Regions from separate parts of the Homo sapiens genome. Here regions 2 and 3 are each linked to region 1. Evidence: fine-mapped expression QTL. A gene starts in region 1. Each other region holds a variant in brackets. All regions are shown on one strand. Distances are from middle to middle.

Region 1 (10,528 bases):
TTGTGAGATTAGGGCCAGGCAAGCTATTTACTGGACGAGTAGAGCAGGAAGTGTTCTGCGTAAATGGCAGGAAAAACCAGCTATGGGTGCCTGCGCATGCTCTGCTCCCTAGGCTGGAGCACGACCCTTCTCTTATGGTTCAAGGCTCAGCTCAGGTGACACTGGATTGGGGAACTTTCCCTAACTTTCCCAATCCACCTCCTCTCACTCTGTGGCACCTTCAGTGTTCCCATAAAGCCCGTGACACTTTGCTCCAACAGCATTCTTCCCACTGTCTTGTAATCGTCAGTGTTCATCTACTCCTCCACACTAGACTGCAAGCTCACTGAGCATAAGGATTCTGACTTATTTCTCCAAATCTCCAGCACCTAGTACAGGATTTGTCAAATAGTAGTCCTCCAACAAATGAGTCTTTTATAAGCAAATGAGCCTCACGTACTTTGGCTCAGAGAAGCAGCCAAGATTTTTTGGCTTTGCCGACTTTCACGGATCTTACTTGAGGGCTTCACAGCACTGAACTTCAGTTTATCCCTGACCTCTGAGGAAAATGCCTCATAGAGGAAAGCAAGATTGGAAGGAGCAAGGCTGAAGCCTGTTATTTCCCTACACATTCAGTGGTCACGTCGAGTAATTTCTCCTCCAATATCTTCCTTGTACATTTTGGGCACCAGTTGGAACAGGTTACATAAGTAAATCAAAAGCCTCTTTTTGCATACCAGCTTTTATTTTTTTCCTGTAGCACTTCAGTTTCACTTAAAACAGAGCTAGGGGTGTATGTGTGTGTGTGTGTGTGTGTGTGTGCATGCGTGTGTGTATAACAGGTGTGAAATGGTTTCAATAATAGAAAAGTCAACACATGGTTGAACAAATACAAGTAACTTCCACATTGCAATACGAGTGGATCTTAGGAGTGGTCCTGTAAATCTGCAGGAGTAAATTTTGTTAGTAATTTATTAATTCTAATTTCTAAAATATTAATTTATATGGATTTGTAAAAGGGAAATCATCACTTTGGAATCTCTGATCAAAGGGTAACTACTCTTTGAAAATGAAATATTCTTTTTAGACTCTCTGGAATGAAATCCTTCCCTGTTGTACGTGTACACACACATACACACATACATAGAACAGGCTGCATACTGTTTCTGCCGATTGCCTTCAGATGGGCCGGTCTGTGTGTTCATCTTGATACTACCGAGTCTACCTATTTGAAATTTGACCTTAACTTTTTCAGGCACCAGTTCCTTTATAATTTTTATTTAATTGTAAATATAATGCAACAGAATACAATGGAGAAAATCATACGTAAAACCAGTATCTTAACAGAATAGTTGCAATCTTTTTCAAATATTCTTTTTCTATGTTTTTAAGTGCATATAATTATAATTAATGGATACATTTGCAACTTTTTTTTTTTTAAACAACATGATTCTTTAAAAACTCAGACTTGCCTTTAGAAGAGTGGATATATGTAATACTATGTATACAGTATTTTCATTGCTGGTGTAGGAGTGTGATAACTGACGGTATCATCAATGACTTTAAAATTGCTGGCTGCATTTGGACATCTGCAATAACCCCTAAATTGTTTTTACTCTCATGAAGGAAAAATGAATTTTGCAAAACAGACAAGCAAAGGAAAAGGGGTCTTCTCCATCAGCAATGAGGTCTTACTTGCTTAAGCTATACTTGTCAACTAGGTTATGTCAGGTTTCATGATTGAAATCTCTTGTGGTTAAGTCTAGTGTTAACCTAGGTAATATTTATTTTTCAAGATTTATATAACTTGCTATTTCATTCAGAGTTCAGTATTTATTTCCCCTGAACTTTTCATGGAAACTAATGATCTCAACAGTAGGAAAACAGTGTGTTCTTCCCCGCCTCCCCACCGCCCCCCCCACTTTGGCTTACGGAGTCTCAACATTAGAGACTTATTCTTAAATTTGGCACATTTTATAAAGACATATTGGGAAGGCTAAAAGTTTCTTATATCTACTCTTCACAAATGTTCAACATAAATCTCACTAGGGACCGGGCACTCCTTGCTTACCAGTCTCCCTGGGTGAACTGGTGAGAGGTGGCCCTCAATATTTTTACTTTTTATTTGGTGAAGCAGGATCAATGACAATGACTTTTGTCATGTGGTAGGCAGTTAGATATGCAGAGCTTCTAGAAATAATGCAGACTGGGAGACTGGAATGTAGTTACAAGTGTGCCAATGAACATGAGACTTTTCTGCTTGATTTTTAAGCTAAGGCTGACTTACTCTCCTGACATTTAAGGGCCTCCTCTCCAATTCCCAGTCATCAGTAAAGGATGTGTACAGGGAATGACAATATTAGAACAAAAACAACCTGCAAGTAAATCGGATGCAAGAGTCTATGTATCTTGCAAGGAAATCTTTTGCACTTAATCACAACATGGCTCTCCTCAATACTACGGAGAACAGAATTGATTCAGATTGTTTTTAAGCCTGAACGTAAACAATATTGTCGCCTTTTTGGGTTTCAGCACCTCCTTATTCATCCATTTTCTCTTTTATGGGAAGGGGGTTGATGAGGTGTGTGAAGATGATAGAACGTGCCCCAGAAACTGAACAATGAAGAGACGCCTGTCATATCGGGGGTACCTAGATTCCTCTGAAAGGAAGCCCAGCTGAAGGAGCAGGGTCACCACTTTATTTTAAAAACGTAACATGGCACATGTTGGTGCTCTATTAATCGAGCCTCGGGGGCCCAATAACGTGAGCATGGGCTGCTGCGTGGAAGTTTGAGACCCTGTTGCTGAATCCTCGGGCCTGACGGTCTATCGCTGAAGACAAGACTTCCAAAGAATCACAGTAAACGTTAACCTAAGCCATCAGAAGCCATTAACTCCGGTGACACTACATTTCAGCGAAACCTTCGCGACCCAACCCCTCGCTCCCTCTCGCCCAAACGCTGGGTCAACCCCACGAACTGGCGGTGGCAAGGCCCTGGGCACCGGTGAAGTTCTCGTGGCAGCGCAGATCGGCGACCTTCTCTTCTTTCGCGCTCAGACGGCGGCGGCAGCAGTACGCTTTCGGGCTGCTGGAGCCGGCAGCGGCGCGAGGCCGGAGCCCGGGCAGCCAGGCTGGGTGGGGGAGGGGCGGCGGCAGCGGAGCCGGGAGCGTGCGCGCGCACCTCACACTCCGCCGCCCGGGGACGCCCACTCGCGAGCCGGGGCCGGTAGGCCGGCCCGGGTCCCATCGCCCCCGCCCTCCGGTTCCTCTCCGGCGTGAGCCCAACGGGTGTCGGCCCAGCAGCTGCTGCGCTCACCAGGCCTGGGGAGGCAGGGTACGGGGACCGGGCCGCAGCCCCGAGCGGCGTGGGCGCGCTGCCTCTCTGGCAGCCGCCGCCAGAGCCAGCAGCTGCGAGCCACCGGAGGCGGCGCGGAGGAGGCCCCCGCGGCCGGGCAGGAAGGAGACGCGGCCGACCTCTGCCCGCCCGAGGCGCGGCTGCTCCCGCGCGCCCAGGCCCTCCCGCCGCTCCAGGGCTGAGTGAGGAATGAGCCGGCGCCTACCCCGGGCTCTCGGAGCGTGGGCCCCGGCTCGGCTTCTTAGGCGCGAGGGCTCGGCCACTGCGGCCGGCGGCCTAGCTCGGGGAGCAGGCGCCGGGGTTCACTGAACCGGCCGCGGAGAGGAGGAGGAGGAGGAGGAAGAGGAGGAGGAGGAGGAGGAGGAGCTCGGCGGGGGCGGCCGCCGCGCCTCCCCTCCCCCAGGACACGCCGGGGCTTCTCAGTGGCCGCCGGAGGAGGAAGTTCCGCTCCCTGACAGACCCGTGCGGTAGCAACAGCGGCGGCGGCCGCGGCGGCTGGCCGGACTCAGGTGTTTCGGACGCTATTGCCCTTCGCGCCAGCCGTCGAGTGGGCAGCAGCGGGACTCAGCCGGGCGCCAGGTTCCTGCCAGGCAGCGCCGGGAAGCGCGGGCGGCCGAGAACTCCTTCCTGCTACTTCGCCCAGCGCCGCTGCTTCGGCTTCCCAGCGAAGTGGGAGACCTTCCTCCCTGTTTGCAGACGTCCGTGGGAGACCCTTATTTTTTCCACCGCTAAGGTTAAGAGATTCTGGAATAGAAGCGTCGAAGGAGATCAAGTGAACCTTCTACAACTCCTCGGATGTCGCCAGTCTCCCTTTCGGGGCGGAAGACTACGTTTGAGCATCTCACTGAGGTGCAGGAATGGAAGAACCCACCTTGCAGCTTTTCTGCAGTGTGGCTTGCCTGATCTACCCCTAGGAATGAAGAGGAGGCTTGTAATAATCCGATGAAGTACAGATGTTGAAGAGGATATCGCAGGACCTAAACTTGTGATCGTTTGGGGGAGGTCACACACGTTTCTGAGTGGGAATGGATGGGCGTGAATGACGTGCCCTCTTAAAAAGCACAACAGTCCTTTAAGAGGAGCAAAATTGAGTTTTCCCATTTTGGCCAAGATTTTGAAGACAGTTCAATGTATTCTACATTTGACATAAGATGAGAACTTTCTAAAGTATTCTCTCCAAGAGCGTAAACGATGACTACCCCAGCCCTGCTGCCCCTCTCTGGACGTAGGATACCACCTCTGAACCTGGGGCCGCCTTCCTTCCCACATCACAGGGCTACCTTGAGACTTTCTGAGAAGTTTATTCTTCTCCTTATTCTTAGTGCCTTCATCACTCTGTGTTTTGGGGCATTCTTTTTCCTTCCAGACTCTTCAAAACACAAACGCTTTGATTTGGGTTTAGAAGATGTGTTAATTCCACATGTAGATGCCGGTAAAGGGGCTAAAAACCCCGGAGTCTTCCTGATCCATGGACCCGATGAACATAGACACAGGTTTGTTTATTTCAGAAGTTCTGGTACTAACATTTGGCAGAGCAAGGTACGGTGATTGGATCGAATCTGTCTTTTTTTTTTCTTGCAGTAAAATGTAATTTTTCGAGTCATAAATATTGTATTGTTACTTCAAGACTGGCTGAATAAAACCATAGACTGGAGGGACTCTACCTCCAGTCTATGGTAGAGTCCATAGACTGGTAGGACTGGAGTCCTACCTAAGTCGTTCTTCTCTTCGGTTTTATATAAGAAAAACATTTGCGTTCAGAGTTGTGTCTAATGTGGACATCTGGGAAGGGAGGTATGAAAACTTAACCTAAAGAAATGGTGACATAAGCTGTGCCTGCATTTATTAATAACGTGTTGGAGTCAGTCATTGTGCCACCATGTGAAATCAAAGCATCGAACCTTGACAGCTCTTTTGGGTGTGCTCTCCCAGAGGGCTCTCGTTTTCTGGCTTGTAGTTGAAGCTTAGTAGTGAGTCAGCTTTTTAGGATGACAAACGTGGGCAGAATATACCTGTCATTTCTTAACGTGAAAATATCCTGATTTTTGTTCTTTTTTTGGGGATGTGTGTTGGTGCTGTATATGAAATCAGTTAAGTTAAAAGGTATTGAATCCTAAGTTATTGCACTTTGTGAGGCTTGTAGACAAGATTTATTTTTGTGAAACTTAATTTTGCTCTCTCTTTTAATGTAATAGATGGACTGTGTCAAGCAACTATTGGAATTTGGTTGATTAAGGGGTTCACATTCTTTCAGATCACTAAATCTAAAGTGAGCTCTGGGGAGAGCATAGCCAAACTAGGATAAAATGGGAGCTCTAGTTACAATTTTTATAATTTTTATATTTGTACTCAAGAGTTTGGGAAAGTAGTTGACTTTTCTTAAACCTGCCATCTTTTCCTTGTTTCTTAAAATAATTCTTGAGTATGTGGGAAAAAAAATCATGTGCTTGAATTCATTTCCCATCTGATGATAGTTTTAACTTTTTGTCAAGCACCGAAAAAGCTTAGGTTCACGTGTAAGCCTACATTAAATATTTGGGAAAATGCACTGTTTTATGAGAACTGGTTTTTCTTTTTTTCTCAACCTAGTTAATTCATTACTTGTGTGATGGTTCTTTGACTTTTGGATGAATTTTATGGAGTAGTTACTTCTAATATTGTTTCATGCCATTCTTTTGTAACTAAGTTAATTTGGAATTTTTGCCATTTTCGACTACTGTACTCCTGTATTTGTTTCTTTAATTTTGCACTTTGCTTGTTGTGACTTTAAGAAAACACTAATATGATCTGTGAAATATGTTACTGAAAAATTAACGGTGAAAGTAGTTTTCCTTGAAAATCTTATTTCGCATGGTATTTGTATAACATATGAAATATATTGAAAAAATGTGTTAAGGCTGTTTTTAGAGCTGTTTCACAACAGCCACACATTAACATTACTTAGCTCTATTATTAATAGTATCTGTCATGTACTAAGCAGTTTAAAAAATACATTTTGAATGGTCTAAAAGTTTAAAATAATATGACCACATTTTAGTTTAAAAACATTTACACAAAAATTCTCAGTAAATGGAGTTAAAATATGAAATTTGAATGAAAATACAGATATGTGCCTTTTATTCACATTTTTAACAGTCTGTATAAATAGTTTAAACAAGAATTCTTAAATTTATGAAGCCCTTGGATATATATGCATATGTATTTAGCTATCTAAAACTATTGGGTTCCTGAGTTTGGAATGAGAGATTGGTTATTGTTCTGATAGCAGGGGTGGTTTGTGAGCCATGCCCTGAGTTTTGGCTAGTAAGAGTCTGGATAGCAAGTGATACATGTGAGTCTGGATAGATTCCAATGCAGTTTTTGGAATCTATTCGGTTCCTGAGTTTTGGAAAACGAGAATTCAAATAGAGTTCAGGTGGCAAAGGATCCTTGTGTTATCTCTTTGTATTTCTGTGGTTATATCAGTTGACATTTGCTTTAGCGTATTATTTGCTGTTGTTTACTATATCAGAAAAGAGTCTGTAGTAATAAACTTTCTTTTACTTTGAGCAAGGAAATACTTTTTAAATTAAGTGTATGTTTAAAATGTGGAAACAGAAAACATCAAATGTATAAACATTAACTTATTTAAAAATAATTCAGAAAAATAGCACTTTTACAGTTGGTACTAAGATCATATGTATTTTGGGTATGGGTCAGAACTTACCTAATTTAGAAGAAACAAATTGACAGTTTATCTTCATTTAGTGTGTGTGTGTGTGTGTGTGTGTGTGTGTAAGGGTACAGGATAGAGGGCTGAGGAATGTTACTTTAACTAATAAGTAATGGAAAATAAGTCATGGTCACCATTTCTTATTTGCAGTACTTAAGAGATACTTGTTTAGTTAGTATTTCTTTATTAATAGATTAGTATAATAATTTGGTGTTTAAGTTCTGGAGTCAGACTGTATAGATTCATACCCTAGCTTGCCACTGATTAGATTTATGATACTGAGAAATTTTAAAACTCTATATTGTTTCCTTTGTATCACAGTGGCATGTATCTACTTTACAGATTGTTTTATTGAAAGAGATAGTACATGCAAAGCACTCAACATAGTTCCTGGCATTTAGTAAATGATCAATAAATGTTAACTATTATTATCATCAGTGATTATAATTGTAATGGAATATTTTTATTCGGAATCTACTTTCCTTTAAATACTGTATATTTTCTGAAAAGTAGGGTACAGTTTGATTAATATTTAGAAGTATACTAGGATCTTATTGTCTAAAGGAACATTTTATAACCAAACTGGTTGGCAACAAATGTATGCCTACTGTGGCAGGCCCCGCTTTCATGAAACTTTCAATCTAGGGAGAGATGATGGGCATTAAATAAATAATTTTGTTTTTGAGGTGTGATGAATGTTACGAAGTTGTACTCAGTGCTTTCAGAGCAAGGAATGTGTGACCTAGTCTATAGAGTTGGGGGTGGAGGGGCAGTGGGAATAAGGAAGACTTCATTGAGAAAGTGTGCCTCAGAAACGTAGAATGAGTAGGAGATTGCTTAATGAAGTGGAATTGGAGGTTGAGGGGAGGTTGAGGGTCAAAGCAGAAGACACAACATGTGTGAGAGCCCTAAGGAAAAAAAGCTTGGCATCACTAAGAATCTGAGAAATGTTAAGTATGGCTGTTGCAGAGGGTGTGGGTCTGGGTGATGAGACTAGATGAGAGGTCAGGTTTGGCCTGCTTACAAGTTTTTTGGCCTCCTTATTGTTGTTACAAAAGTTTGAATTAGTTGTCAGCATTCACAGATCAGGAGATTTCATGTTAAAGTCTGGATTTCTGATCTTTCTTGAAAAATTAGAGGTTATGGCAACATCCAGTGTATTTTCAGATGGTAATATTCAAGCCACAACCCAGTAGCAGCTGCTCCCTTGGGAGGGGGACGGGGGCGGGCATGTGCCACTCAGAGTGCGAAATAAGTAAATACAAATCAATCAATATTTAACCTGGTTGTTGTTGAGTTTGCAAATTCTAGTCAGGATTCTAGAGAGTTTGTAGTTAAATATTTTGGTTTTTATCATAAATACTAAGAGAAGTTATTGAAGGATTGTAATAAAAGCAAGGGAATGACATGATCATTTTAAATTAAAAAAATTAAATAATCACTTTGGTTGCAATGATTACTTACTGGATGGTAAGAAGCAGGAGGATAACAAGTTAAGAGGGGCTGGGTCACAGAGGATATATTGGCTTAGATCGCAGTGGTGATAGTGGAGAATGAGATAAATTAGTGGAGAAAAGTGGTTGAGTCAAGAGGTGTTAAACTATTAAGTTTCACAGAAAATGGTGGTTGGTTAAATATGGGGCCAAAATAGAAAGAAAAGTGAGTCCAAGATAATGTCTAGGTTTCTGGGTGACATGGCCATGGATTAGTAAGAAATACATACTATATTTAATTAATGCCCTAATTTATAGATAATAGTGGTATTACATGAATTTAGTATATTTTCATGAGGAAACCAATATGTTCCCTTCTATTAAGTAGTTCATAAATAATCCAGAATTTTCAAACACTGTAGATACACTTTATAGATGATAAGGATATATCAAATGTGTAGTTTGGTGTTGATTATGGTTATTTATAGTATCTATGATTTTGCAGTACCCAAAACCAGAAGTTGTTATAATATACATGTTGTTATACGCTAATATACATAAAGTAATATACGTAAGTATACTTTGTGTACATAATAGATCTCAATAATTAAAAACTTTTTTTTTTAAAACTGACATTTGTTTTATATAATGGCATTTATAGATGGGCTTTGTGAGTTAAAAAAAAAAAAACCCAGCTTATGAGCTGTTTATCTGAATAGCTAATAAGTTTCACCCTCCAGTCAGAACTTTGTTAGTCTGAATTGAATACTTGAGGGTCAGGTATATGTTTACCTTTGATACTTTCCTCAAAGGCATTGGAGTTATAAATAAGGCTGCATCTTAGTTCTACTAACTAGCTGTGTGGCATTGTGCTAGACGTAATCACTCAAACCTGTGCGCTGTCCAGTACCATAGCCACTAGTTATATATGACTATTGCACTTAAAATGTGGCTAGTCCAGGCTGCAGTGTGCTTTAGTGAGTTTCTCAAGTTCTTCATGTTATGATTCGTGTTTTTTTTTTGCTTGATTCAGTTTTGTTACAAGAGTAGAGATTTCAAATCTCACTATTGCAATTTTAATTTTCTTGTCATCTTTCTTTGTCTCATCCCTCTTCTGGACCTTTTTTTTCTATCCTGTTTTTTATTTGGGGCTTTCTGCTCCTGTTTGGGCGACGTCACATTGTTTTATGCACTAATATTAAAGTCTGCTGGATGTTCCATTTCCCTTATAAATTGCTCATGGTTATTTTTCCCACTTCCCTTTACTCAGACATGAATTATTGTGAGGTTTGTTTGTATTTGACGTTTGTCAACAACAGACTGGTGTAGATGCCTTTGCTGCATTTGTTTTTTTTTTTTTTTTTTGGGTACATTCTGTGGTCCAGGCTGGAGTGCAGTGGCACAATTACAGTTCACTATAGTCTCAAACTCCTATGCTGAAGTGATCCTCCTGTCTTAGCCTTCTGAGTAGCTGAAACTATGGGCATGAGTTGGGACTACAGGTGTGAACAACCATGCTAGGTTAAGTTTTAATTTTTGTAGAGATAGGGTCTTACTTGTTGCCCAGGCTGGTCTCAAACTCCTGTGTTCAAGTAATCCTTTTACCTTGGCCTCCCAAAGTGTTCGGATTACAGGTGTTAGCCACTGCACCCAACCGAATCTTATTTTTATCGATATGGATACTTTCAAATTGGAGCTCATGCCTAAGATTGGAAAGTTGGTAATGCAGAAGCTAAGTATCTTCTAGAAATCAGTAGTACATGGTAAACATTAATTGATTTTTTTTTTTAAGTGAAAGCAAGTTTATTAGAGGAGGAAAGAAACAAAGGATTATAGGCAGAGCAGCCAATTTATTTTTAACTGGGCAAATGTTTTGTTTACTATTGTTTGAAAATTATAGAATATTTAACTTATGTGGGAGGTGGAGGTGGGAGGATTGATTGATTGAGGCCAGGAGTTTGAGACTAGCCTGGGCAACATAGTGAGACCCTGTCACTGCACATACTCGCACATGCACACAGCTGGGCATGGTGGTTGGTGCCTGCCTG
Region 2 (11,151 bases), 190 kb after region 1:
AAGTTCAGGGAGAAGGGAAAAAAAGAGATGGAAAGTACAGAAAAGACCATGAGACATATGTGATACAGTGATGAGGTCTAATATATAACAATATGTAATAGTCTCAGAAAAACAAAAAGAGAATGGGGCAGAAGCAATATTTTAAGAGCTACTAACCAAGAATTTTCTAAAACTGTGAAAAAAAAATTCAGTTAACAGATTCAAAAGTTCTGTGAGGCTGGGCGTGGTGGCTCATGCCTGTAATCCCAGCACTTTGGGAGACCAAGTCAGGTGAATCACTTGAGGTCAGGAGTTCAAGACCAGCCTGGCCAACATGATGAAACCCTGTCTCTACTAAAAAATACAAAAATTAGCTGGACATGGTGGCATATGGCTGTAGCCCCAGCTACTTGGGAGGCTGAGGCAGGAGAATCGCTTGAACCCAGGAGGCAGAGGTTGCAGTGAGCTGAAATCACGGCACTGCACTCCAGCCTGGTGACAGAGCCAGACTCTGTCTCAAAAAAATAAATAAACATAAATTAAAAATTAAAGGAAAAAAAAGTGGGATTTCCTGGGCTATTATGATGGTGACGAATTTCAAGTGGTTGTGGCAGTATCGCTTTCCCGCCCTTTACATTACAGCTGAACGTGGCCACTTGGCAGAAGCAGCTGGCCACCTGGTGTTTGTTGGTTCTGTCCATCTGCTGCCTGCACAGACAGTCAAGCATGATGGTTATGGATGCTCAGGAGATCCTGCTCTTCAGCAACATCAAGCTGTGGAAGCTTCCTGTGGGATCAATCCAGGTTGTATTAGAGGAACTGAGGAAGAATGGGAACTTACAGTGGCTGGATAAGAGCAAGTCTAGTTTCCTAATCATGTGGCGGAGGCCAGAAGAATGGGGAAAACTCATCTATCAGTGGGTCTCCAGGAGTGGCCAGAACAACTCCGTACTTAGCCTGTATGAGCTGACCAATGGGGAAGACATAGAGAATGAGGTGTTCCACGGACTAAAGGAGGCCTTCTGTGGGCTCTGCAGGCCCTTCAGTAGGAACATAAGGCTGAGATCATCACCATCTCACTCGGAGACCAGTGATGGCTGAGGTGTCAGGTCCATCTGTCAGAGACCTGCTTCCTTTTACTTTCTATCTCCCACCTTTCCAGGGCTTTCAGGAGGAGACAGACTCGGTGGACCCACACATTGAACCTGTGAATCCACCAGACTCAAAAGGGCTCCAGTCCTGAAGCCTGGGACCCAGGGGTGGGTTTCTCATACACAACATGTCTGTCCCTGGGACAGGGTGAGGCTGAGGCACTCCAGAGAAAAATGCTTCTTCAAAGCTTGCCTACTTCCTTTCCTATCCTAGACTGCTTCTGAGCCAGGGTCTGTAAACCTAACACTTTATGTGTGTTCACATATGTAAGTTCATACACACATGCACCTGCACATGCTTCTGTCTCCTCCATCTTCTATCCCCTTAGCTGCTGTTGCCTCCCTTCTCAGGCTGCTGCTGGATCTTTCCTAGGGAATGTGGGAAGCCTGGCTGCAGGCAGCCATCCAAGCAATAGAAAGATAGGAGGCCCATGGGCCTGGCACTGACAGGCAGGGCCCAACATTGATTTATGTTATTAAAATCTCAACTGCCCCCACTTCAGACAATAAAAACTGAGCTATATGCTGCTCACAATAAATTCAGTTGAAATATAATGATTAGAAATGTAAAAAGTAGTAAGAAGGAATAAGGTACGCCATGGAAATACTAATCAAAAGAAAGCAGATATAACTATATTAACATCCAAAGCATGACAAATCATATCTCCATTGCATAAAAGAATATAATCAGGAGTGTTTTTAAATATCTTTTTATTTAATTTAATCTGGAATTCATAGCTTGAACAAATCTCAAAAATCCATCATCTTTTTTTTTTTTTTTTTTTTGAGACAGTCTCACTCTGTCGCCCATGCTGGAGTGCAGTGGCACGATCTCAGCTCACTGCAACCCCCATCTCCTGGGTGCAAGCAATCCTCCTGCCTCCGCCTCCTGAGTAGCTGGGATTACAGGCACCCGCCATGACGCCCGGCTAATTTTTGTATTTTTTATTAGAGACAGGGTTTCACCATATTGGTCAGGCTGATCTTGAACCCCTGAACTCAGGTGATCCACCCTCCTCGGCCTCCCAAAGTGCTGGGATTACAGGCATGAGCCACCTCACCCAGCTAAAAATCCATCATCTTTAATTACTGAAAATTTATCATAGTCTATTGCAACTCTTTGAACAAGTATATTATTTACATTTTTATCCTCCAAAGACTCAAAACTAAAAAAACTTAAAGAACTCTTGTGATGTCTGTTACTTTGATATTTTATCAGCAAGAAAAATATGTGTTTTGTTTACCTCAGTTTTTTCTAAAATTGTGAAATGTATTATTTGTATCTTTGTTATGTCTACATTGAAGATGATTAATCATGGATGATGTTGTACATGGTTTTGGAGTTTTTTCTTTTCATGAAATGTTGAGAGGGCAAAGCATATCCTCACAAGCTGTGACAAATTTTTTTGAAATACCTTCGGCCTAAAGGGAAATAACAAAAAGTTAAATATAGTTATTAAAGTTTATTTTGTTAGTGTTTTGAGTGCTAGTACCTCAAACAATTCTATAATGATGTGAATTATGATATAATCTAATCTTTGTTATTCTTTCTTGTATCATTTAGTTTTTAATTAACATTTTATTCAAAAAGGATATGAAGTTCTTCCTATGTTTATGTCACGAATCCACTCTTTTTTAACCTTCAAATCAACACTCTGTTTCCTATATATTCAGCTATTTGGCTGTTTTTAATAATTGTTTTCATATGTAAAATTGCTCATTACTTTTTATAGCATTTCAATTTTTTTAATAGTTTGAGGGGGTACCGATGCAGGTTCGCTTCATGGATATGTTGTGTAATGGTGAAGTTTGGGTTTCCAGCGTGTCCATCACCCCGATAGTAAACACTGTACCCAACAGGTAATTTTTCAACCCTTACCCCCTCCTACTGTTACCACTTTTGAAGTCCCCAGTGTCTGTTAGTTCCTTCTCTATGTCCATGTGTACCCACTGGTTAGCTCCCTTTATAAGTGAGAGCATGTAGTATTTGATTATCTGTTTCTGAGTTATTTCACTTATAGTAATGGCCTCCAACTCCATTTATGTTGCTGCAAAAGACATAATTTCATTTTTGTGGCTGTGTAGCACTCCATCGTGTGTGTGTGTGTATGTGTGTGTGTGTGTATATATATATAAATACAATTACCACATTTTTTATCCAGTCATCTGTAGATGGACACTTAGGTTGATTCCATGACTTTGCTATTGTGAATAGTGCTGCAATAAACATATGAAAAACTATACCATGCAAACAGAAAACAAAAATGAGCAGGAGTAGCTATATTTATGTCAGATAAAACAGACTTTAAATCAATAACTGTAAAAAAGGACAAAAGTTATTATATAATGACAAATGGTTCAATTTAACAAGAAGATATAACTATCCCAAATATATATGCACCCAATACCAAAGCACCAAGATCCATAAAACAAATACTACTAGACCTAAGAAAAGAGACAGCAATGCAATAATGGTGGGGAACTTTATCACCCCACTGACAGGACTAGACAGATCATCAAGGCAAAAAATCAGCAAAGTCTTAAACTGGACTCTAGGCCAAATGGACCTACCTAATAGACATTTACAGAACATTCTACCCAACAACTGCAAAATATACATTTTTCTTATCTGAATGTGGAACATTCTGGAAAATAGACCATATTCTTGGCCATAAGGCAAGTCTCAATAAATTTTTAAAAAATCATATGAAATATCTTTTTAGACCACTGTGAAATAAAATTAGAACTCAATATCAAGAGGAGCTCTCTAAAGTATTTGAATATATGGAAACTAAACAAGTTGCTCCTGAATGATCTTTGAGTAAATGATGAAATTAATACAGAAATTAAAAAGATGGAAACAAATGAAAAGAGACACAACACACCAAAACTTCTGGGATATAGCAAAAGCAGTGCTGGAAGCTTATAGTGTTAAATGGCTACATTAAAAAGATAGAAAGACCTAAAATCAACAACCTAATGTCACACCTCAAGGAACTAGAAAAATAAAAACAAACCAAACCAACAGCTAGCAGAAGAAAAAGAAATAGCAAAGATTAGAGCAGAATTAAGTGAGGTTGAGACAAAAAAAAAAAAAAAAAAAAACATGATATGAAGGATCAATGAAACAAAAAGTTGGTTCTTTGAAAAGATAAACATAATTGATAGACCACTGGCTAGACTAGCCAAGAAAAAGAGAGAGAAGATTCAAATAAACACAATCAGAAATCATAAAGGTGACATTACAATTGATACCACAGAAATACAAAAGATCAATTGAGACTACTTTGTACATCTCTATGCTCACAAACTAGAAACCCTAGGGGAAATGGATACATTCCTGGAAATGTACTACCTTCCAAGACTGAACTAGGAAGAAATAGAAATCCTGAACAGACCAATAGCGAGTAATGAAATTGACTAGTAATAAAAAATTTCCTGACCAAGAAAAGCCCAGGGCCAGATGAATTCACAGCCAAATTTTACCAGATGTTCAATTTTTGAATAATACAAATGCATTTTGTGTTTGGGAGTACATGTTCAAGTAACTGATAGATTTACAATGTATAAAGCACACAAGTAGATTCTCACTCCAAAAGTCATCTAAAGTGACTACTGATATTTGAAGGTGAATATTCTAATATTAGCAATAATTTGAATGGTGTGGCTTATTCACATTACTGATGATTCAGCACTAATTAGATATGGTGGTAACCCTGAAGGTCACAAGATTATTGATTAGTAAAAATTTATAGATGCCAGAAATTATGTTTAAGTATGCATTTGGCTTTTTGGCCTTTTTAAGGCTGAGGCTTAATACCAAGGCCAGAATTGAACTATATGCACCCTATTCATACTATGCACCATTTCTTAGGAGGTCTTTTACCAAAACAAAAGTATAAACCAAGAAAGTGGCTTCACATCTCCTATAGGTTCTGCATCAATCAAGTTAGTACTAAATTATGCCTTGCTTTGCTTAATATTTTTATTATTTATTTTTAGACAGGGTCTCACTCTGTTGCTA[G/A]GCTGAGTGCAGTGGCAAAATCATGCCGTATTGCAGTCTCAACCTCCCTGGTTCAAGTGATCCTCCCACCTCAGCCTCCTGAATAGCTGGGACTAAAGGAGCATGCCAGCATGTCTGGCTAATTTTTTGTATTTTTGTAGAGACGGGGCTTCACCATGTTGCCCAGGCTGGTCTCGATATCCTGGGCTCAGGCAATCTGGCTACCTTGGCCTCCCAAAGTGTTGGGAGTACAGGTATGAGCCACTGTACCTGGTCACTGCTTAATGTTTGTATAACTTAAACCTACCAACCTATTAATCTCTTTTAAAACTGTAAATGTGTTGTGGGCAGAAACCTTATCTTAGTTGTGTTTTGCCTCTTTAATTTTATAGGGAAATAATGATAATTTGGTAATTTTCCTCTAAGGATTATTTTTTTATTATTATTATTATACTTTAAGTTCTGGGATACATGTCCAGAACATGCAGGTTTGTTACATAGGTATACATGTGCCATGGTGGTTTGCTGCACCCATCAACCCATCATCTACATTAGGTATTTCTCCTAATGCTATCCCCCCACCAGCCTCTCACCCCCATAACTGGCCCCGATGTGTGATGTTCCCCTCCCTGTGTCCATGTGTTCTTATTGTTCAACTACCACTTATGAGTGAGAACATGTGGTGTTTGGTTTTCTGTTCCTGTGTTAGTTTGCTGAGAATGATGGTTTTCAGCTTCATCCATGTCCCTGCAAAGGACATGAACTCATCCTTTCTTATGGCTGCATAATATTCCATGATGTATATGTGCCACATTTTCTTAATCCAGTCTATCACTGATGGGCATTTGGGTTGGTTCCAAATCTTTGCTATTGTGAATAGTTCTGCAATAAACATATGTGTGCATGTGTCTTTATAGAATGATTTATAATCCTTTGGGTATATACCCAGTAGTGGGATTGCTGGGTCAAATGGTATTTCTGGTTCTAGATCCTTGAGGAATCACACACTGTCTTCCACAATGGTTGAACTAATTTACACTCCCACCAACGGTGTAAAAGCGTTCCTATTTTTCCACATCCTCTTCAGCATCTGTTGTTTCCTGACTTTTTAATAATCACCATTCTAACTGGTATGAGATGGTATGACCTTTTGGTTTTGATTTGCATTTCTCTAATGACCAATTATGATGAGCTTTTTTTCATATGTTTGTTGGCCGCATAAATGTCTTCTTTTGAGAAGTGTCTGTTCATATCCTTTGCCCACTTTTTGATGGGGTTGTTTGTTTTTTTCTTGTAAATTTGTTTAAGTTCCTTGTGATTCTAGATATTAGCCATTTGTCAGATGGATAGGTTGAAAAGAAGAAGATATGTAATTCAGGAAACAGTTTCAACTTAAGAGACAGAAGGAGAAAAACTCAAAATGACGGTGAAAGGAGATTTCAGGATAACAGCTGTGTACGAAGTATAGATGTCAACCAGTCCAGAGTGGAGTATGGTCAAATGGATCCAGAGATAGAGCTCCAGGAAGTGGAAAATGATGGAATACCCTCATTTATTTGAGTGATTGAGAGGAGTTTTCAGTGGATAGGTGAAAGCTGGGGTTGTATCAGTGATAAGTGTATAGAAAACTATATGAGATGCAAGCTCCCTACATCTCTTGTAGCTATTCTTGAAGCTAGGCCAACTAGCCATTCCTTCAGAGTTTTTCTCCTTCCGTCTCTTCCAGGGTTGGATAAAACACTACAGCACAGGGTGTGAGATCTAGGATCTCAAGTGGGCAGCCCATGAAGGGACTGGGTTAATGCAATCTAGAAGTACAAGGGAATACATTCACATGAGATGAATTTTACCAAACAAGAATCCAGAGACAAGAAGGAGCCTGGAGGACAAATCACTTTTCTTCTTTTCTTCTATGGTGGACATTGAAGCATGATTTATTCTTGCAACCCATCTGGAGAAGTCTCGGGTGCCAAATGAACAGACCTGCTGAACAACCCGCTGTGTCACTAAGTGGTTCTTTATGCAGCAGCAGCCAAGTGCAGTAACATGTCATTTTGCATTGCTTCACGTCTTTATTTGCCTCCCTTCCTTTTTCCTCAACCTCAGTGATCTGGATTTGCATCTCCCAAATAGAGTAACAGCACTTTAATTTTTGCTTCAGACTCTACTTTTTAGAGGCTAAGATTAAAACTAAGCAAATAATTAAAGAAGAAACTTCAAAGAAAACTAAAAGTAGGGCAAGAAAGAAAAAATAATAGGGTGGCTAGTATTATTATTATTAGGCTCAGTCCTTAATAGAGTTTAGTAGTAACATTAGAAATATTAAATATCCAACAATTGAGATATAGCTACACTGGAAGAATAGGGTAAGGGAAGAGATATTGGTCATGTAGTAGTGGTGGTTAAACAGAAATAAATCCTTATCTTCACTAGTAAAAAGTCAATTAGACTGAAAAACCAAAAAAGTTAAAGTTAAAAAAGAAAAGAAAACTAATGGAATTGAAAGGATTTCCCTCTTGAGAAAAGGAAATAGGGAGTTGATAGTTCCTCTTTTTTAAGTCTTACTGAATTAAGTCTGACTCTTCTATCATTTAAGTCTTACTGAATTAAGTCTAACTGACTCTTCTATCATGTACACTTATAACATTGATTTTAAAAAACACATTTCAAATGCTAGTTACTGATGAAGGCATGTGGTTTTATTGTTGTAAGCTATAAAATCAAACTAAGGTAGATATTTAAACTCTGAAGAAACTTCAGTTTTGTGAAGTGACTGCACATTTTACACTTCCTCTAGCTATGTATAAGATCTTATCCTAGCTGTTCCACATCCTCTCCAACATTTATTGTTGTTGATCTCTTTTTATTTTAGCATTTGGTATTGTCTTTTTCATTTCCGTCATTCCTGTTGATATGTACTGATATCTCATTGTGGTTTTAATTTGCATTTTGCCTAATGCCTAATGAGGTTGAGCATTTTGTCATGGGCATCATGGGCTTACTGGCCATTGGTCCCTCTTCTTTTATGTTCTTTTTAATTGACTTGTTTCATTCTTTAGTTATAGGAATCTTTATGCATGCACATACAAGTCATTTGTCAATGTTATGTGTTGCAAATATTTTCTCCCAACCTGTAACTTAAGTATTTTCTAAATTGTGTCTTTTAGTTAGAAAAATTTTTAAAATTTTGCTGAAATTGCAATTTAGCAATTTTTTCTTTTATGGCTAATATTTTCTGAATCCTCTGGAGAAAATTTTTTTCTTCTCTAAGGTCATGAAGACATTCTTCAGTGTTTCTTTCTAGTAACTTTCTAGCTTTTCCATTTAGGTCTGTGGCCCATTTATTGATGTGATTTTCCTTTCCTCATGTATCAGTATTCTATGCTGCATAACAAATTACTACAAATATAGTGATGGACAACAGTGAACATTAATTATCTCACAGTTTCTGTAGGCAGGAGTCCAGGCACAGGTTGGCTGAGACCTCCACTCAGGGCCTCACAAGAATAGAATCAAAATTGCCATCGGTTTTTGTTCCTTTCCAGAGCTTGGGGTCCTCTTCTATGCTGACATGGTCGTTGGCAGAATTCAGTTGTGGCTGAGGTCCCACTTTCTTGATGGCTGTGAGCAAGGGGCTGCTCTCAGTTTCTAGAGGCCCCTGTAGCTCAAGGGAGAGTCTCTCATTCCAGTTGGCTAAGATGGAGTCTTATGCAAAGTAACATAATCATAGAGGTGACATCCATCACTGGTGCCGTACTCTGTTGGTTAGAAATAGGTCATAGATCCTGCCCACACTCAAGAGGAGAGGGTGTAGAGCCAGGAGGCAGAGATCATAAGGACCATTTAGAATTCTGCCTACCTCACCCCATCACATTTCCCATATGACCTAGTACTTCCCCTCTGTATTAGTTCATTTTCATGCTGCTGATAAAGACATACCTGAGATTGGGCAATTTACCAAAGAAAGAGATTTACTGGACTTACAGTTCCATGTGACTGGGGAGGTCTCACGATCATGGCAGAAGGTGAAAGGCACATCTCACATGGAGACAGACAAGAGAAGAGAGCTTGTGCAGGGAAGTTCCCCCTTTTAAAACTATCAGATCTCATGAGACTTATTCACTATCATGAGACAATACGTGAAACACCAGCCCCCATGATTCAGTTACCTCCCACTGGATCCCTCCCACAACATGTGGGAATTCAAGATGAGATTTGGATGGGGACACAGCCAAACTATATCATTCTGACCCTGGCCCCTCCCAAATCTCATGTCCTCACATTTCAAAACCAATCATGCCTTCCCAACAGTCCCCCAAAGTCTTAACTCATTTCAGCATTAACTCAAAAGTCCACAGTCCAAAGTCTTTGGACAAGGCAAGTCCCTTCTGCCTATGAGCCTATAAAATCTAAAGCAAGCTAGTTACTTCCTAGATACAATGGGGGCACAGGCATTGGGTAAATACAGCCATTCCAAATGGGAGAAATTGGCCAAAACAAAGGGGTTACAGGGCCCATGCAAGTCCAAAATCTAGCAGGGCATTCAAATCTTAAAGATCCAAAATCATCTCCTTTAACTCCATGTCTCACATCCAGGTCATGCTGATGCAAGAGGTGGATTCCCATGGTCTTTGACAGCTCCACCCCTGTGGCTTTGCAGGGTACAGCCTCCCTTCTGGCTGCTTTCATGGGCTGGCACTGAGTGTCTGTGGCTTTTCTAGGTGCATGGTGCAAGCTGTCAGTAGATCTACCATTCTGAGGTCTGGAGGATGGTGGCCCTCCTCTCACAGCTCCACTAGGTGGTGCCCCAGTAGGGGGGCTCTGACCCCATATTTTCCTTCCACACTGTCCTAGCAGAAGTTCTCCATGGGAGCCCTGCCCCTGCAACAAATTTCTGCCTGGACATCCAGGCATTTCTGTACATCTTCTGAAATCTAGGTGGAGGTTCCCAATCCCCAATTTTTGACTTCTGTGCACTCGCAGGCTCAACACCGTGTGAGAGCTACCAAGGCTTGGGACTTGCACTCTCTGAAGTCATGGCCTAACCTCTACATTGGCCCCTTTTAGCCATGGCTGGAGCAGCTGGGACACAGGTCACCAAGTCCCTAGGCTGCACATAGCACAGGGACCCTGGGCCCAGCCCATGAAACCACTTTTTCCTCCTAGGCCTCTGAGCCTGTGATGGGAGGAGCTGACATGAAAACCTCTGACATGCCTTGGAGACATTTTCCCCATTGTCTTGGGGATGAACATTCGGCTCCCTGTTACTTATGCAAATTTCTACAGCCAGCTTGAATTTCTCCTCAGAAAATGGGCTTTGCTTTTCTGTCACATTGTCAGGCTGCAAATTTTCCACTCTGCTTTATGCTCTTTGTGCTCTGCTTCTCTCATAAAACTGAATGCCTTAAACAGCACCCAGGTCGCCTCTTGAATGCTTTTCTGCCTGGAAACCTCTTCCGCCAGATAGCCTAAATCATTTCTCTCAAGTTCAAAGTTCCACAAATCTCTAGGGCAAGGGAAAAATGCCACCAGTCTCTTTACTAAAACATAACAGGAGTCACCTTTGCTCCAGTTCCCAAGTTCCTCATGTCCATCTGAGACCACCTCAGCCTGTACTTTATTGTTCATATCGCTATCAGCATTTTGGGCAAAGCCATTCACAACAAGTTCCTCATCTCCATCTGAGACCACCTCAGCTTGGACTTTATTGTCCATATTGCTATCAGCATTTTGGGCAAAGCCATTCAACAAGTTCTAGGAAGTTCCAAACTTTCCCACATTTTCCTGTCTTCTTCTGATCCCTCCAAACTGTTCCAACCTCTACCTGTTACGCAGTTCCAAAGTCGCTTCCACATTTTGGGGTATCTTTTTCAGCAATGCCCCACTCTACTGGTACCAATTTACTGTATTAGTCCATTTTCACACTGCTGATAAAGACATACCCAAGACTGGACAATCTGCAAAAGAAAGAGGTTTATTGAACTTATAGTTCCACGTGGGTGAGGAGGCCTCACAATC
Region 3 (11,151 bases), 90 kb after region 1:
ATTTAGAATACTACGTAAACTTAGTTGATGCAGCCAGTGTCAGGATATGAGAGTGGCCTCCAAGTTGGAAAGAATTTTTACTGTGGACAAAATGCTGTCAAACAGCATCACATGCTACAGAGAGATCTTTCGTCTTGCAGAGAAATCAAACAGGAAGAATCAATCAATACAGCAGACTTTATTGTTGTCTCATTTTAAGAAATTGCCCCAGCCACCCCAGCCTTCAGCAGCCACCACCCTGATCAGTCAGCAACCATCGTCATCAAGGCAAGACCCTCCACCATCAAAAAAGAGTATGACTTGCTGAAAGTCTCAGATGATCATTTGCATTTTTAGCAATAAAGTATTTTTCAAATTAAGATATGAACATTATTTCCACATAATGCTGTTGCACATTTAAAAGGCTACAGTATAATGTAAATATAACTTTTATATATACTGAGATACGAAAAAGTTTGTGTGACTCATTTTGTTGCAATATTTGCTTTATGGAGGTAGTCTGTAACCAGGCCCATAATATCTCTGAGATATGCCTGTTTTTAAAGAAGTAATGTCTAGAAATTTTTCAGATTTGTTAAACAGCTGTAAATTCACAGATTCCAACATTTGATGGAACCCAGCAGGATAAATATAAAGAAACATGACGTCTGAAAATCTGTGACTAGAAAAAGAAAAGTTAAACAGCCAGAGAAGAAAGGCATTTACATTGGGGAACCAAAATAGAAATACTTCCTTCTTATCATAAGCAATACAATCCAGAAAACAATCGAATCCATCTTGAAAGTGTTGAAAGAAAAAAGTCGATCTCAAATTCTATAGCCACTGAAAATATTCTTTAAAAACAAAGGTGAAATTAAGACATTTTCAGGCAAACAAAAGCTTAGAGAATTTATTGCCAGCATACCTGTATTGTTAGAAATTTTAAGGAACTTTCTAATGACAACAGATGGAAAAACAGATTTACACAAAGAAGGGAAGGGCACTGGAAGCAGTAAATATTTGAATAAATATAAAAGGCTTATTTTTTCTGTTTTGGTCTTTGTTTAAAGCAAAAATAATAACTCGCATAGTGGGGCCTATAGTATACATAGGAGAAAAATTTGTTACCACAGTAGCACAGAGGATAGTATGGAGACGTGAAGCCCTTACATTATATGTGAAGTGGTATAATATATAAAGGTCTACTGTGGGAAGGTTAATGGTTTATGTTGTAATGCCTAGAGCAGTCATAAAAAAATAAGCCGGTAAAGAAAATGGAATACTAAAAACTACTGAATCCAAATGAAGGCAGGAATAGAGAAGGAAACAACTAATGGGAAAAATAGACAATGAAAAGGCAAGATAGTAAACTTAGGTTGGTAGGATGTAAAATGGTAGAGACACTTTGGAAAACAGTTTGACTGTTTTTCAAATGTTTATCACATCAATAGGATATAGGTAAATAGTTGTCATATTCATCCAATGGAATACCATTTAGCCATAAAAAGAATCTAACTGCTGAGACACACAGCAATATGGGTGAATCTCAAAGACATGTTGAGTGAAAGAGCCAAACACAGGAGCATATACTGTATGATGTTTGTATGAAATTCTAGAACATGCAAGACTAATCAGTAGTGAGAGGAAGCAAATTGAGAATTGTTTGAGACTTGGTGGAGGAAGTGTGTGTGTTGATTGCAAAAGGGATAAGGACATGTTTTGGAAGGATTGACTTGGTTTGTATACCAGTCTTTGTTTTCATTTGTCATAACCCATTGAATGGTGTACCTGAAAGGATGCATTTTTGTATGTAAATTATACGTCAGTATATACTTAAAAAGAAAAATAAACCAGATCCTACACTTGGCTGAGGGGCTGTGTAATAACAAAAAATAACATTACCTTATAATTGAAGGACAATCTTAACTTTGAAAACATATTTAGAAAAAAGTTTGTAAAAATACAGAATTAAAATTAGAAGAGACCAGTGAGTATTTAAAATGTAATAGACAACTCAAATTATGCTTATGCAGTTTTCCAGAAGGATAGATGAGAATGTGTTAACAGATTGCTTTGGTACTGAGAGTGATTGGAAGAGGTAGAGGGCTTAGAGAGATACTTTTTTTTTTTTACTTTATGCTTTTTCAGTGCCATTTAAATTTTAAATCATGAGTATATTACATATCCTCTCAAATTAAATGAAAATGTAACAAAAATCAGACTTCATTTTAAAATAAAAATTAAAGCTGTTATATTCATCTGCTGTCAAACAAGGAAGTTTTTACTTAAAAAATTTTTAAAGCATCTGCTATAATAAAAAGGTGAGAAGAAAGCCATTCTTACATTTCAGCTTTACTTGTAGACTAGTGTATTATCTGTCAAAAGCCCTTAAAGCTTGTTTCTTTTGACCCAGCAATTCAACCTTTGTTAATGTGCCCGAAGAAATTGGATGTATGGACTAAGGAAGACATCTACAAAATTATGTTTATCACGGCGTATTTCACAAAATCATAAGTACAGGTTGAACGTTCAAGAGTAAGGTCATTTGTTAAGCAAATTTGGTAGTCCATAAGGTAAAACAATATGTTGCCACATAAATGATATCATAGATAAAATATTTACAGTATATTAAAAATGTTTTATAAGCCAGATTATGGCATCATATAATGAGAATGACCATATAGTGTGTTGTTCATAAGAGTACAATTTAAGAATGAATGGGGGAGCTGAAATAATTAAAACTATTTAATTTTCTGAGTATTTAATCACTGACAAATTGGTTTTATTTTATTGGGTATCCTGTAAAATAATTCTGCTATAAACCTATTTTCTAAAATGAAATTATTAAAAACATACATTCTTGTGTATTTATCTAAATTTGAAATTATTGGCACTTTCAATTGACTCTTGTATGCTTTTATTAGAGAAGGTATTCTCCCTACAGTTGCTCAGAGCAAATTCTGCTTAATTTTAGGATATTCTCAATTCTAAATTTTTGCATATTAAAATGTTTAAATATTTCAGACCAGATATTTTTACAAATCCCATTCTTTTGCTTTCATTCAGAATACCTTCCACAAATCTGAGATATTTTTACATTGACTTTTATTTGTAATTATTTTAAATAATCATCCAGTTTAGATGATACAGAATCATAGGGCTTCTCAATTTCATTCCATTGAAGTATACAATATAAATAAATCTAATTGAAAATAGGAGCTCCATCAAACCATTATTCCTACAAATGAAGATACTTCAACTTAAGCTTACACATTGAGTGTTTTAATTTCTTCAGTTCATTCTTTGCTTTTGTCGGAATGCATTTCAATATCAGTGTGTTTGCAAGCTTTGTTTCTAATAATTGCAGTTTACTGAAAGCTTTACTCCATTCTTTCAATACATTGATTAAATATATTCGACTGACTTTGAACAAAATGCAAACCAAAATATAGAAGACTCATTATCAAAACAATTTAATATGATTGTAGACCACTTAGGGTGATTTACTGTCAAGAGTTTACCAAACATTTTTAGAATCTTTCCTTTTGCTGGTGGTCAGGTAAGAGAAACATACGTTTTGCTTGCTTGTTTTTGTTTTTTGGTATTCATTGCAAATTTTTTGTTACTCAGGTTCTCTGAGTATATACGTAAATTTTAGTATCCAGACCTTTTATTTTGATCAGTTGAGAAAAAAACATAACATTTGCATGAAATGATGATCCGGTTATTTTTTGGCAGCTCATCATCATTTTATAGTTGGAAATTTTGTCCTCGGCAGCATTATATCTTGTTCTTAGGGATTTTCTTATTTTTCTGAGTTGCTAGGATATATGTAAGTATCAAATTTAATATTTTAGATTCTTCCTGTGACACTATGTAAAAAATTTAAAAACCTTATTTAGAATTTAGTATTTTGAAAAGTGTTACTTTTTGACTTTTGGCGAGATGTTCTTTTTATAGAGAATGGCAAACTGTTGGACTTCCTAAGTTTTGTTTTTATACTTGACCACACTATAATTCATCCGCTATGCTGAAACCTAGTTAATCTTTCTAAATGGTATGCTTTATTCCTTAAGTATTATGTTATAATCCTTAAAGTTATTCATGACTTTCCATCACACTTAAAGACTAAAATTTTACCATGGCCTACAAAATTATTTCATAGTCCAGATTATACCTTGCTTTCTAACCTCATCCTGTGTCATTCACTTCCCCTTACTTTCTGAACTCTAGCCAAACTAGCCTCCTTCCTTTCCCTCAAGGCCATTACATCTGCTGTTTCCCTTACTGGGAATTCTGTTCTTCCAGATATTTTCATTAGTGGCTCCTCATCATTCAGGTCTCAGTTCAAATCATATCATTTTAGAAACATTTTCTCTGAACATAATATGTAAAAAGCCTTTTTTGTAACTCACTTTCTATCTCTAGTACTCAACATTCTATTTTTCCTTTTTAATTTTCTTCACAGCAACTATCACTATTTAAAATGATCTTATTTATTGTAGGAGCAGGAATAGTATATGTCAGGTTCACCACTCTCTCACAGCATAGTAAACACTTACATTTGTGAAATGAATTACTGTCTTATGTAGTTACTATATCCATATTTATTCTTTGATTCTCACTTCTAGCTATAAAATATCCTAGTGGTATTTGCCTTCCATATTTTCAGACAGTTTAAAAATAGCACCAAACAATGAAGGAACTTTAAGCAAGGTTGTGATATGTTCTTACATCTATTTTAATGTTCTCTAAACACAAATAAAATATAACATATTGAATTGACAGAATACAAGTGAATATAAGATGAGAAATATATATATATCTATATATATATATA[G/T]ATATATATATATTTTTTTTTTTTTTTTTGAGACAGAGTTTCGCTCTTGTTGCCCAAACTAGAATGCAATGGCGCAATCTTGGCTCACTGCCACCTCTGCATTCTGGGTTTAAGCGATTCTCCTGCCTCAGCCTCCTGAGTAGCTGGGATTACGGCGCCTGCCACCATGTCCGGCTAAGTTTTTGTATTTTTAGTAGAAATGGGGTTTCACCATGTTAGCCAGGCTGGTCTTGAACTCCTGACCTCAGGTAATCTGCCCACCTCGGCCTCCTGAAGTGCTGGGATTACTGGCGTGAGCCACCGCGCCTGGCAAAAATATTTATATTTATACTTCTCCCAAAAAATAAGACAAGATCCTAGAGAATGGTCTAGAGTTCTTGTAGGAATAATCCAGGAACTCTGCTGCTTGAATCATCTAGACTTCCAGTTCCAACCAGGAAATACTGTTTATCAGACTACCCTTCTACCAAAAGCAGTCATGAAAGCTAGACAAAATATATAAAACCAAATGGTTTGAAGACACTGAAATGCAATTAGGTAGAGCTTGAGGGGCTGTGATCCTAAGGTCATCGCCATATAAACATTGGCTTTTTCCCTGAGGATATGTTCTAAAACATGTTCAGAGCAATAGAGGCCATATCTAAAGTGGCAGTCATTTCGGGCAGAGGAGACAATGGTCAGGCCCCAGAGCTGCTAAAATGACTGAAACATAGGGACAAAATCTCATATAGAAAGAAATTGCAGAGGAAAAGCCCAAAATTTATGGACAAATTTCCCTGAAGTCATTGGTGATTCCATAACCACATATATGGGGCAAGCAAGACTCAAAGAAACCCAGCAGAAAATAGCAGAAGAAATTTAAGGGCTAAGGAGGAAATTTAACAGCCACATGCTAGTGGGGAAACAGAGGTTAGGCTGCTTAGGTGCCCTTGGTAAATACCCCTGGCTTCCAACTGAAATTCCCAGGGCCATTTCTGGAAGTTGGGGTAAAAACGGAAATGGACTATTTTTAACAAAACCTAAAACACAATGTAATCTGCATTTACTCAGTCTGTGTTCAGAAGAAATTTAACCTTTTTAGAAGATAATGTCATTCAAAGCCTCTACAATTTTTCATTTTATGTAGTTTGCCTTCAGATAAAAAATTACTAGACAGATTAAAAAAATAAAACGCAAGAGCATATTCTAGAGATTATATCTGCACAAATGAAATGTTTATGAGATTATTCACTGAAAAATGTTCATGGTAACAAAATATTGGAAATAGCCCAAGGGACCATCAATAGGGAATTTATTAAATTGTGTATATTTATGTAATATATTAATTTTCACACAGGCACTATCATCGTTTGGTGCAAGCCAGTTCTTTATTGTATGATACTGTCCCGATCATTCACTACAGGGCAGTTTATAACTTTGGACCTGGCACAATAAGTGGAGGTTGCACATTCAAATTTTGAGACAACTCAAAATGCTCCCACACATTTTCATGTGCCTCTAGGGTGGGGCATTCCACTTGAGAATCATTAATATTATGGAATTCCGTACAACTGTAAAAAAAAAAAAAAAACTGAGAAAGTTGTTTATGAACTGATATGGAAAGACCACCAACTTGCTATGTTTTGTTTAAGAAAGGAGGACAATGAGCATATATATTTGGATTGCCTACATTTGCATAAAACATTCTGTAGTAATATGTAAGAAACGAATGAAAGTGATTTTCTGTGGAGCCTGATGAGGTGAATGGAGATGAGAATGGGTGAAATGTATTTACTGGATTTAAAAACTACTGTTTTAATTTTTAGAACATGGATTTATTACCTATTTAAATTTTTAATACAATTTTAGATATAAATAAGCTATCGTGTCAGATATAATAATTTATAAGAGATCTATTTAAAATTTACATATTCATTAAACGAATGTTTTGGTCTTTTCCCAATCCTGTGTCTCCTTTTACTTTTCCTTTTCATTCAGTGGAGTAGGGCGAAACTGGGGCTGGGCATCTGCAGGTAGCAGCATTCTGGCTGAATTTGGTACACTACATATGGAGTTCATCCACCTCAGCTACTTGACAGGGGACCTGACTTACTACAAAAAGGTTTGTTTTCTTGCCTTCTATTCTTTGTTTGTTATAAAGAGTCCTTTAAGATTGGCCCAAAGATTTGATTAATGCTTAAAAGGTTTGCCTTTCTAGATATATGTTTATTAGGGCTGTAGCCTTTATTTTTTCTTTTGAAGTTACTCAAAGAAATGTCCTTTCTATTTAGAACATATTTAAAATATGTATTGTTATTTGAGAAGTTATAACCACTGTTACATTTTTCAAAAATTTCACTGCTATTTTTATGCAGCATTGTGCTGCGGTACCTACCCAGCCTGGTAAGACAAGAAAAACAAAATAACCAGATGTTTAGGAATTGAAAAGGAGGAAAGAAAACAGTAGTTATTCACAGATTACGTGATTATTGACCTAAGATATTAAGACAGTCTATATTTAAATTACTAGAAATAAGAGTTTAATATGTTTTTTTAAATAGATGATCAATATGGATGTTAAAAATCAGTAGCATTTCTCTACACCAGCTACAAAAGGCAAGAAAATGTCATTTTGCAAAAAGATATCTTATGTAATAGAACAAAAGTATATATGTTTCCTACAAATAAATCTAACAAAAGATAAAGTTCAAATTTTTACTCAGCCATGGAAAAGAATGAAATCCTTTCATTTGCAGCAATATGGATGGAACTGCTGGAGGACATTATGTTAAGTGAAATAAGCCAAGCTTAGAAAGACACGTATTATGTGTTCTCATTCATATGTGGGAGCTAAAATAAATTGATCTCACGGAGGTAGAGAATAGAATGGTGGTTATCAGAGGCTTGGAAGGGTAGTGAGGAGAGAAGGATAAAAAGGGGTTGGTTAGTGGGTACAAAAGTACAGTTACATAGAATGAATAAGATCTAATGTTTGATAGCACAATAGAGTGACTATAACAATGATTTGTTGTATATTTCAAAATAGCTAGAAGAGAAGACGTAGAATGTTTCCAACAGAAGAAATGATAAATGTTTGAAGTGATGGATGTTTCAGTTACTCAAATTTTATCATTATACATTATATGCTAGTATCAAAATATGTATAACTCTTTATATCCATAAAAATTAAAAATAAAAATTTAAAAATACAAAACTTTATTAAATGATATTGAAGAGGATATAAATAAATGGAGAGATATCGTATTTATATATAGGTAAACAATATCATAAAAATTTCAGTCATCCCCAAATTGATTTATAGCATAAATTCAGTGCCAATAAAATCTCTAATGGCCTTTTTCCTCCCAGTGGAACTCGAAAAGACACTTCTAGAATTTATACAGTAAAGAAACATTCTAGACACTTGTGAGGAAAAACACACTGGCTGGATTTACATTGCCCAGTTATCAACATTGACAGTATAGTATTTGTTAATAGGGACAAACAGACTGACAAACAGAATAGATAGCTCTTAAACAGACCTACATATATGTAGAAACTTGTTTTAACAAGTGTCGCACTGTGGATTATAATAGTTAATTCCAGGAATATTAAAGGCTTAACTTTAAAATATAAAACCCTGACACTTTGAGAATAAAAAAATATATGCCCTTGGGGTAAAGAAGGATTTTTACAATGGGAAACAAAAAATATTACCTAGTAAAAATACCCTGTAACCCAGCAATTCCATTATTCGGTATGTACATTTACATTGTATACGTAGAAGCATTGTTTATATTGGCAATTTATATAATAAAATACAAAATAGTAATGAAAAATGAATTATGTTTATATCTGTTAGTTAAAAGAATATGATACAATTTTTATAAAGTTCAAAACAAAGCTGAACAGTATATTGGTTAGGGATTCAAAATGGTTTTGATAAATTGTTGAAGTAAAAATAATATATAGAGATGAATCTCTAAATTAAATGTTTTATTTGGAAGCACAGAACTCCAATTCAGGGCATACACACAGAGTAGGGTGGTTGGTCCTCAGTACATCCAGAGAACAAAGAGAAGGTTGGAAGTTTTATTAGAAATGTTATGTATAGTTTTGAAAGGAAATGTGTTGACACGAGTAAAGCTTCTAGAAGCTGTCTGGCTCTGATTGGTGATGGCAGTAGATAAAACTATAATCTTAGGGTTATAGCAGCTGAGCTTGTGGAAAACGTAATTTTTGGAGCTGGTGTTATGTGCCGCAGGTGATTTTCTGCTGGGCCCCTTGACTCTGATTTAGTTGGGTATGACAAGAATGACCCAATTCGTATAATTTGCTTTCACAAAGTCAAGATAATGACAAATATGAAACTCAAGACTACAGATACATCTGGGATATGGGGAATAGTATGTGAATGGGCAGTGAACAGACCATCAAAGGTGTTCGTAGTGTTGTATTTCTTAAATTGAGATGTGAGTAGAGTCGAGATATATATGTATATTCCTTTCTGTGTATGAAGTACTTCATCAACAGAGAAGAATTTTCAGGAAAATGGAACTAGATGACATAATTTTCCCTGTTCTGACTAAATAAATAATAAAAATTAAATATTTTTATATTAATTATGTTAAAAATTATTTTTATATCAATTATATTAATAAAAATATTAAAGACAGTACAAATTCATCAAAGGCAATAAAAGAAGGAAAAAATGTAACTTCATGTCATATTTGATAACCAAAATAAACAAAAACGAAAAGATTTCTGATTTCTGGAATGAGACATAAGTCTGCTTCCTACCGTATCCTGAAACCTTTCTGGGAAAAGAGAGTCAGCCAACTCCTAGTATTCCCTATCTGTCTTGCCAGGGAGACCAGTGCCCAGGGCGTCAAATATGTAATTGCCTACAGCTCCAGCAGAGTTCTCACCTCTCATCCTTCCTGAACACATAGGCTTCAAGTGATCAAGTAGAAGTACACTAGTACTCCAGATCTCAAATTGTATCCAAGAAGGGAGAAACACACACATACACACACACACACACACACGAGGAACTCAAGGAGAAATCAACAAAGTTCAGGTCAGAACTGACCCTGGTAAATGTGAACAAGATAAAACAGAAAGCATGGCAATTGTGCAAACATACTGCTAGAAACAAAAGCAGAGTGGTATATAGCATGTAGAAGACTGATAAAGAATCCAGTTTCAAATTTTAAAAACAGTAAAAAAAAAAAGTCACCATGAGTAATTCATACCATAATAGAAATTAAATTTAACAGAGTTAGAACTCAGAACCAAAATAAAACAATAAAGTGATACAAAAATATTGTGGAGCTAAAGAAACAAGCTGAGACCTAAAATGATGTATCCCCATAGCTAATGGAAAACAACAAAGAACTCGTTGCACATAGTTAAAAACTGAATTACTTACATGGAATAAAAGCAAGAGATAGTCATAGTCAAAACAAAGGAAAAGCAGAGATTAAAAAGATAATAGATTTGTAAAATAAACATAATTTAACGTATGGGCCTTCCTGAAGTAGAAGACCTAAATCATAGGAATTAACCTAAAAGCTGCAAGAAGAAGAAACACTGCTGGGCACAGTGGTTCACACCTGTAGTACCAGCACTTTGGGAGGCTGAGGTGGGTGGATCGCTTGAGCTCAGGAATTCGAGACAAGCCTGGGCAACATGGTGAAACCACTTCTCTACCAAAAATTAGCCATGTGTGGTGGGGCGTGCCTGTACTCCCCAGCTACTTGGGAGGCTGAGGTGGGAGGATCACTGAAGCCTGGGAAGCAGAGGTTGCAATGAACTGAGATCGAGCCATTGCACTCCAGCCTGGGCGACAGAGCAAGACTCTGTCAAAAAAAAAAGAAACAGAACACTGCAAATTCCATTTCTAACAAAATTAAGGGATACTTGATGCTTCATAACACCAAATAGGAAGAAAAGTAGGCATATAAGCAGTAAAGATCAGAGAGAGGTTTGGTATAAATGGAAGAGAGGATGTTTGGGTCTGCAGACTGAAAAATACAAAGCCAGTAGAGCACAATTCTCTAAATTAGATGGTGTAACTTGACATACAAAACTCAAATTCTCATGAGCAGCAATGAGAACAGGATCACAGGCTAATGGTGAGTACTTCTTTGGACCTTACTAGATATAATGTGTTGAGAAGCTGGAAAAACAGAATCGAGTAAGGTTTCTCACAGACAAGCTGTTTGCGCCTGCGAACTTTGGTGAGGGAAGGGAATGAATGACAGATTCACTATTGTGCTGCATTTCCAATCTCAAGTGGCTGGGGAGAAGCAAAGTCTAAAAAAAACATTTATGTCTGGACTCTTACCTGG

Alleles and levels. Positions count from the first base shown, and alleles are read on the strand shown. Sizes are in standard deviations (SD) of each study's normalised expression.
In carriers of allele G in region 2, the expression in lung of the gene that starts at base 3,792 in region 1 tends to be lower than with A alone (small effect, 0.18 SD a copy in GTEx).
For the expression in skeletal muscle of the gene that starts at base 3,792 in region 1, T is the high allele of the variant in region 3 and G is the other (moderate effect, 0.48 SD a copy in FUSION).

What was found. PIP is the estimated chance that this variant, and not a neighbour inherited with it, causes the effect.
Region 2: its variant is fine-mapped to the expression of MAN1A2 in lung (TOPMed, PIP above 0.99). The same link has a PIP of 0.9 or more in left ventricle.
Region 3: its variant is fine-mapped to the expression of MAN1A2 in skeletal muscle (FUSION, PIP 0.95).

The regions. Positions count from the first base shown.
Region 1 is chr1:117,363,658-117,374,185 of GRCh38, forward strand. MAN1A2 (mannosidase alpha class 1A member 2) reads left to right here and starts at 3,792. Exons shown (of 13, transcript NM_006699.5): 1 at 3,792-4,828. The coding sequence starts at 4,527. RefSeq lists silencers at 48-107, 3,028-3,847 and an enhancer at 4,718-4,857.
Region 2 is chr1:117,548,852-117,560,002 of GRCh38, forward strand. It overlaps the pseudogene VPS25P1. Among named protein-coding and RNA genes, the nearest start is that of TENT5C-DT, 51 kb to the right of the region's middle. The variant G/A (reference allele first, on the strand shown) is at 5,155.
Region 3 is chr1:117,453,693-117,464,843 of GRCh38, forward strand. MAN1A2 (mannosidase alpha class 1A member 2) reads left to right here. Exons shown (of 13, transcript NM_006699.5): 7 at 6,797-6,920. Among named protein-coding and RNA genes, the nearest start is that of MAN1A2, 92 kb to the left of the region's middle. The variant G/T (reference allele first, on the strand shown) is at 4,820.